2 linked regions of the Homo sapiens genome follow. The protein of the gene in region 1 interacts with the protein of each later gene in a pairwise test. Each region holds a gene or a part of one and is shown on either strand. Other genes may lie near its edges.

Region 1 (3,810 bases):
AGGCTGAAGTGGGAGGACTGCTTGGGCCCAGGAGGTGAGACTGCAATGAGCCATGATCGCACAACTGCACTCCAGCCTGGGTGACAGAGTGAGACCTTGTCTCAAAAAAAAAAAAAAAAAAAAAAAAAGAACCAGACGCTATTCATCAAGACAGTGACTCAATGACCCCAAAGGCATTTCTGAGATCTTTGTGACTGCCCATCTCATCATAAGCCTAGAATGCCAGGGTCTTGGGGGCAGAACGATTTCAAGGCTCCACTTCCCACATTCCAGAATACTCCTTACCCACTCCAGCTATAGCTCAAGCAGGTCCAACTATAGCTCGGGCCACCCCTCTGGAAGGCACAGGCAACAAACCACAGTGGTGTCCGTGCAGGGCCATCTCCACAGTGCACAGAGTGAATGAGCTGTGGGGGCACATCTACCTCTACCCAGACTTCAAAGGATGCCCCAAAGAGTGCCAGGGCCCAAGCAGAGAACTGTCACAAGGGCAGGGCCACCAGAGAGACCCCACTAGGGCAATGCCCAGTGGAGTTGTGGGGCAAGACCACCCCAAGACCCAAGACTGGTAGAACCACTAGAGTGCAACTCCAGCCTGAGAGATGCAGGCATGAGAATCCAGTGACTGAGAGCTGCTGCATGGGCTGCTCCCAGCAAAGCTGTGGGAGTGGGGCCATCCAGAGCTTTGCAAGACCAACCCCTGCCCCAGTTTTTGTGGAAGGCGGGGCTTTGAGTCAACTTAAGCCTTAAGATTTAATGTTGTTTGTCTGGTTGGGTTTTAGACTTGGTCAGGACCTGTCACTCCTTTCTTTCTTCCTACTTCTCCCTTTTGGTCTCGAACTCCTGGCCTCAAGCAACCCTCCCACCTTGGCTACCCAAAACGCTGGGACTACAAGCGTGAACCACCACACTGGGCCTCACTTCTCCTTTTTGGAATGGGAATGTCTATCCAATGTCTGTCCCACCATTGCATTTTGGAAGCATACAACCTGTTTGATTTCACAGGCTCACAGCCGGAGAGAAACGTGCGTCAGAGTGAATCCCAGAGCTGGAGTCTTACCCATATTTGATTTAGATGATATTTAGATGGGACTTTGGACTTCAGACTTTTGAGGTGATGCTGAAATTAAGTTAAGACTTACCCGGAGTTAACATTTTGGGGGCTATTAGGATAGAATGAATGTATTTTGCACGTAAGATGAACATGAATTTTGAGGGGCCGGGGCAAAATGCTATGGTCTGAATTTTTGTGTCCTTCCAAATTCATGCTGGAACCCACTGTGGTGGTATTAAGAGGTAGGGCTTTTAGGTGACTAGTTTGTTAGGACTCTGCTCTACGAAGGGGGTCAGTGCCCTTGTCAGAGAGGCTTGAGGGAGTCTTCCACCTTTCTCCACCACATGAGGATGCAGCAAGAAGGTACCATCTACGAGGAACAGGCCCTCGACAGACACCAAATCTGCTGGCGCCTTTATCTTTTTTTTTTTCTGAGAAGGAGTTTCACTCTTGTTGCCCAGGCTGGAGTGCAATGGCGCGATCTCGGCTCACCACAACCTCTGTCTCCCGGGTTCAAGCGATTCTCCTGCCTCAGCCTCCCAAGGAGCTGGGATTACAGGCATACGCCACCACACTTGGCTAATTTTGTATTTTTAGTAGAGAGGGGGTTTCTCCATGTGGATCAGGCTGGTCTCGAACTCCTGACCTCAGGTGATTCACCCGCCTCGGCCTCCCAAAGTGTTGGGATTACAGGCGTGAGCCACCGTGCCCGGCCCATCACGGGGTCAGTGCTGGCGCCTTTATCTTGACCTTCACAGCCTCTAGAACTGTGAGCAATAAATTTGTTGTTTATATTACCCAGTCTAAGGTATTTCATCACAGCAGCCTGAACTAAGACAAATAGGTATACAATCTTATATTCTGCCTTGTTCATATATATTCCATATATTTTTCTCGTTTCCAGATAGTCTTGATTATTTCAAAGGGCTGCATAATTAGCTGTACTGACACAGTATAATTTACCAAGCCCTACACTCTGGTAAACCATTTAAACCTTTCTAATATTTTGCATTAAAAACAACATCACAGTCAATAACTTTGTATATAAAAAGCTTTTTGCTTATGTTAAACTACACTCTAGTATATACTGCTGAATGAATGAATGGACTTCCCTGAAGCATTGCAACTGTCTCAATAGTCCAAACATTTTCACAGGTCTTGCAAAGAAGGACAGACTGCTTCTAAACGGCCTTACAATTTACAAGGTAATCAGAAATGCATTCGCTACTATCTGGCCAAGAAAGGTGTTAATGAGTTTTTGCCAACTAAAAAAAAACGAAGAATGAGGAAAAAAACCACACAGACAACAGTGTAGTCAGCCTTAAAATCAGAGGAAAGTGGGAAAGAGGCAGCAGCACACTTACTGGGGATCTCCAGGCTGGGGTGGATGGCAGCCACACTTCTGACCATGGGTGGGGAATGCCGTCCATCCACCAAGTCCGACTCGGCATCCTGCGCCTCTCCATGAATCACTGCAATTCCCAGGCGCAGGCGCTCAGCAAAAGACTGTGCCCTGAGGGAAAACACCAGACACAAGCTCAAAACTCATGCAGCCCTTGGTTCTGCTAATGCCTAGGGGACAAAACATTAAGAGAACATAAGTAGAATGTTGTCTCCCAAAGGACTAAAGAAAAGAGAGAATAAAACAGCCTTAGACTCTTAGAAACCAGGACTAACTGTAGAGACCCCACATGCCAAACACTTCCCTCTGCAGCAGCACCAAAGAAGGGCAGCAGCCTGGCCTGGTCTGCAAGCCACTGGCCGGGAGAGCCTGACTGAGTGAAGGAACCTCCGCTCAGCTCTGTCTCACCTAAAGCTGCTAATTCTACCTGCCTGCCTACCTACCAGTGAGAACCAACTACATGGGGCAAAGGGCATAAAATGCTCACCAAAGTATTAAGCACAAATTTCTTAATAGTTTTAGGGAGGTAAAACTGAGATATGAGAAACTGTGCATATCTAAAGTATATAATTTCATGAGCTCTGAAGGCTGTATGTGCCCATATAAGCATTAGCACAATCAAGATAAGGAACGTCATCACCACAAGCATCTCCTTATGCCCCTTAGTGATTTTTCACTAAGTGTTGCCCCAGGCAACAGCTGATCTGCTTTCTGTCACTATAGTTTCACCTATCTAGAATTTCACGTAAGTGAAATCATAAAGTTGCCTTTTTTTGTCTGATTTTTTTTTGAGATGGAGTCTTGCTCTGTCGCCCAGACTGAAGTGTGGTGGCAGGATTTCTCAGTTCACTGCAACCTCTGCCTCCCGGGTTCAAGCGATTCTCCTGCCTCAGCCTCTCAAATAGCCAGAACTACAGTCATGCACCACCACATCTGGCTAACTTTTTTGTATTTTTAGTACAGATGGGGTTTTACCATGTTAGCCAGACTGGTCTCGAACTCCTGACCTGAAATGATCCACCCACCTCGACCTCCCAAAGTGCTGGGATTACAGGTGTGAGCCACTTGCGCCTGGCCATTTTGTCTTATTTTACGCAGCACATGTTTTGGAGATTCATCCATGGAATAACATATCAATAGTTCATTCCCTTTCATTGCTGAGTAATATTCTGCTGGGTGAATATATCACAGTGTATCCATTTATGTATTGCTGAGCTTTCCGGTTGTTTCTAGTTTTTGGCTGTCACAAAGCTGCTGTGAACATTCATACACAGATCTCTGTATGGGCACATGCTTTCTTTCCTTCTTTCTTTCTTTTTCTTTTGAGACAGAGTCTCACTCTGTTGCTCAGGCT
Region 2 (3,910 bases), about 62 Mb from region 1:
ACTGCAAAGGTCAGGCCGCCAAATACAGCGTAGCAAACACGTGAGGGACTCACAGTGGGCTGTAGGAGGTGGGAAGAACTGAGAATAGTGGTGAGGGCTGAGCCTCCAGCGTCATATTAAATTACGCAGGGGACAGGTCATGACGGGCCTTGAAGCCATGCCAACCAGAGTGAACTTTATTCACCATGAGGTCATGAGAAGGGCACTTCAATGTTCTAAGAGGACTTGTGGGCTGGGTGTGGTGGTTCCCACCTGTAATCTCAGCACTTGGGGAGGCCAAGGTAGGAGGATCCCTTGAGCCCAGGAGCTGGAGACCACCCTGGGCAACATAGTGAGATCCTGTCTCTACAAAAAATAAAAAAATAAGCCGGGTGTAGTGGCTCACACCTGTGGTCCTAGCTACTCAGGCTAAGGTGGGAGGATCACTTGAGTCCAGGAGGTTGAGATCAGATCTTGACAGTGAGCCAAGATTATGCCACTGCACTTCAGCCTGGGCACAGAGTGGGGGAAGGGGAAAGGAAGGAAAGAGAGACAGAGAGAGGAAGGAAGGGAGGAAGGAAGGAAGGAAGGAAGGGAGGGAGGGAGGGAGGGAGGGGACTTGTTGCTTTTGAGGAAAATACTTGCTTTTTAGGAAAATTGGTCTGCTGGCAGTATGGAAAAGAAACCACTGAGGAGGAACATTTGAGCCAGGGCACCCATGAAAATGCTGCTCAGGAACCCACAGGAGTGATGGTGGCACAGCCAGGGAAGGAGCAGAGGGGAAACAGACAAGGGGACAGATTCCAGCGACATTTAAGAGGCAGAATAAAAGCGAGCTAGTGTGCAACTGGACGCGAGAGGAACGGAGGGGCCCAGGAGGATGCAGATCTCCAGCTTGGGCAACTGGGAGCGTGGTGGACAGGTCACTGAGATGAAGAACCCAAGATAACAATCAGACTTGAAGATAAAGCTCATGAGCTGATTCTTAATAGTCACAGAATTCCCTTAATTTTTGCCTTTTTTTCCCTTCCAAGACTCCCCAGACTTTTTTTTTTTTTTTTTTTTTTTGAGATGGAGTTTCGCTCTTGTTGCCGAGGCTGGAGTGCAATGGCGTGATGTTGGCTCACCGCAACCTCCGCCTCCCGGGTTCAAGCGATTCTCCCGCCTCAGCCTTCCGAGTAGCTGGGATTACAGGTATATGCCACCACACCCGTCTAATTTTGTATTTTTAGTAGAGACCGGGTTTCTCCATGTTGGTCAGGCTGGTCTCGAACTCCCGACCTCAGGTGATTCCCCCGCCTCAGCCTCCCAAAGTGCTGGGATTGCAGGCGTGAGCCACCGCGCCCGGCCAACTCCCCAGACTATTAATGACATCCTACAAAACGAGAAGCCGGGTTCTACGCTTGCACTGCTCCCTGTCCCGGAGACCGCACGCCCGAGCCCACCGAGGGGCCCGCCTCGAGCTCGGCGTCCTCCCAGGTTACCTCGAGCTCAGGGAAGCTGAGCACCACCAGGGAAGCACAAGCGCGGACACTGTCCCCTTTCACGAAGGACACGTCAACGCCCCCGACCCTCTGCAGACCCGAGAAGGCGGGGTCTCGCTGCCACGCCTCGGTGTCCCGGTCTACGACGTGGGCCTTCAGCCGAGCTTGCTCCCTAGGAGGACAGAAGCGTCAAACTTGGTCGGGGTCACACCTCAGACTCTGCCTCCTCCACCCGCGCGGCTGCAGCGGACAGAGCGCCTCTGCCGGGTCTTCTCCCGCTTCAAGGGAAAGCAAGGGACATACCGCCGAGGCCACAGTCCCTAGGAGCCCAGGCGGCGGAGACCCGCGCAAGCGCAGGCCAGACAAACTGGCCGGAAGCGAGAACCGCGCCCACCCCGCGGACTACAATTCCTGAGATCCCTCCGCTTCCGCGCCGGAAACTGGGCTTTGCTTTGGAGTCTCGGGCGGTGGCAGCTCCGATTCCACAGCCTGAAGACTATGAGCTCGGAGGGTCCGCGAAGGGCCGCCCGGCCTCGGCCCCCGCCTCCTGCGCGTCGCCTGACAGCATTACCGTTTCCACAGTGACAGCGTTTCCTCCGGCGGCCCTCCCGCCGCCTCCAGGGCCATGGCTTCGTCCCGGGCACCCCTTCCGCACGTCACTTCCGGAAGCGACTCGCTCTGACGCCGTCCGCCCTCGTTGCCATGGAGACGCTTGCGCTTTCCCGGGCCGCACTTCCCACCCGGGTCTTCAGAAGCCCGTGGCCGCTGGGTGAGCCCCTGCGTGAACGCACACGCACGCACACGGCTTCAGGTTGCCCCGCGGCGCCGCGCGCGATATCGGCTCGGATCCCGGGAGGCCGTCCGCCCCTTTTTCAGCGGATAGCTGAGGCCAGGTAAGTGACCGCGCGAGGACCCGGGAACTCCGTGACGCCCGTCCCGCCTCTGCTGTCCCCGCCGCAAGCGCTGCGCTCTGCACGGCGAGAGGGGCCTCTTGCCCTGTTGAGAGCCGGCGGGCACGGCACTTCTGCGCTTGGAAAAGGGTGGTCCAGCACTGCAGGTCCCACTCCTTGGCCCGGTCAGCGTCCGCCTTTGCTGAACCCCGAAAGGATTCACCAGGTCCAGGACAGCCCGGCAGTTGCCTCAGGAGCACTTACTGAGCGCCTGTCGTTGACGCCCCCACCTCGATGGCAGCTCAGGGGTGCCCTCAAGCTTTTGAGGGCAGGTGTCGTGTATTTAAATTCTTCACAGTTTAGCGGGCTGGACTCACGGGGGTGCTGCAGACTTGGACGGGGTTTCATCTGGGTCGGACCTTGCTGGGCAGAAAGCTTCTCCTACCAGACAAAGTACGGCGACCTTGGGGGGTCTTGGTTCTTACCTCGTGTTCCTCATTGAATGAGTGTTGGTTCAGTGCTCTCGCTGTGCCAGGTGTTGTGCGAAGTACTGTGAGGGAGAATATGTATTTATTTGTGGGGAGCCGACTTTAAACCGGTGGTTGGGAAAGGCCTGAGAGGCGATATTGAAGACACCTGAAGGGTGAGTGAAAGAGCACGGCGGGTGAGTGGAGCAGCTTTCTCGTGCAGGTCCCGGGGTGGGAAAGAGGTTGGTGTATTTGAAGCACTGAAAGGCAGCCACTGAAGCTGAAGTGTAGCAGTTTAACCCATGGTTTTATATTCTCCTGGGAGGATTCAGAAGGGTGTATGTGTGTATGTATATATAATAGCCTGAATATAAACGTCAAGGGTGTTAGGTTTTGAAGGGAAGGTGAAGGTTAAAGAATGACGCACAGTGAGATTGCCGGCGCGCGGGCGGCTCTACAGCAACACAGGTGTATTGCAAACACCTGTCGGGGGCCAGCTTAATGCCAGAGCCCACCAGCGATTACAGGCTGGGGTACTCATAGGCCTGGGCAGGAGGGATCTAGGCAGTATGGCTTGCTGTCCGGGAAGATGTTAACGTGTTCCCAGGATGAGGTGGTTCCGGCAGAATGTGGTGTTCCTGGCGCTTTGTCCCAGCAGAATATGTTAAGAGGCAGGCTGTTTCTCATGGCTCGAACCCCCGTGGAATGTTTCACTTTGACCAAGGTCTACAAAATGGAAAGGGGCTTACAAAATGACGCAGTTTGGACTAACAAAGGGGAAAATACAGAGGATGAAATTAGACTCTAGAGGTTGAGGCTCAGGAAAGGCTTCATACAGCTTTGGGAACTGACAAGGCTTTGAAAGCAGGGTCAGTTTTCAGCGAATGAGCGTCACCCACTGCACCCTGCGCACCCTGCTCCCCTGCTGCGGTGTCTTTCCCACCAGAGTGTAGCAGGACAAGCCGCAGACAAAACCCCTCAGACACCGAGTTAAAGAAGGGCTTTATTCAGCTGGGAGCTTCGGCAAGACTCACGTCTCCAACAACCGAGCTCCCCGAGTGAGCAATTCCTGTCCCTTTTAAGGGCTCAC

Evidence for each region.
Region 2: the proteins of PRPSAP2 (region 1) and ENDOV interact in a two-hybrid assay, tested with the Homo sapiens proteins (one large-scale study listed by IntAct).

Annotation. Positions count from the first base shown.
Region 1 is NC_000017.11:18,909,860-18,913,669, reverse strand, and holds part of PRPSAP2 (phosphoribosyl pyrophosphate synthase-associated protein 2), read right to left. Parts: intron 2,568-3,810; coding exon 2,419-2,567; intron 1-2,418. UniProt on the Homo sapiens protein: Seems to play a negative regulatory role in 5-phosphoribose 1-diphosphate synthesis.
Region 2 is NC_000017.11:80,413,375-80,417,284, reverse strand, and holds the start of ENDOV (endonuclease V), read right to left. Parts: upstream 2,119-3,910; 5' UTR 2,091-2,118; coding exon 2,035-2,090; exon of another isoform or gene 1,636-2,034; coding exon 1,464-1,635; intron 1-1,463.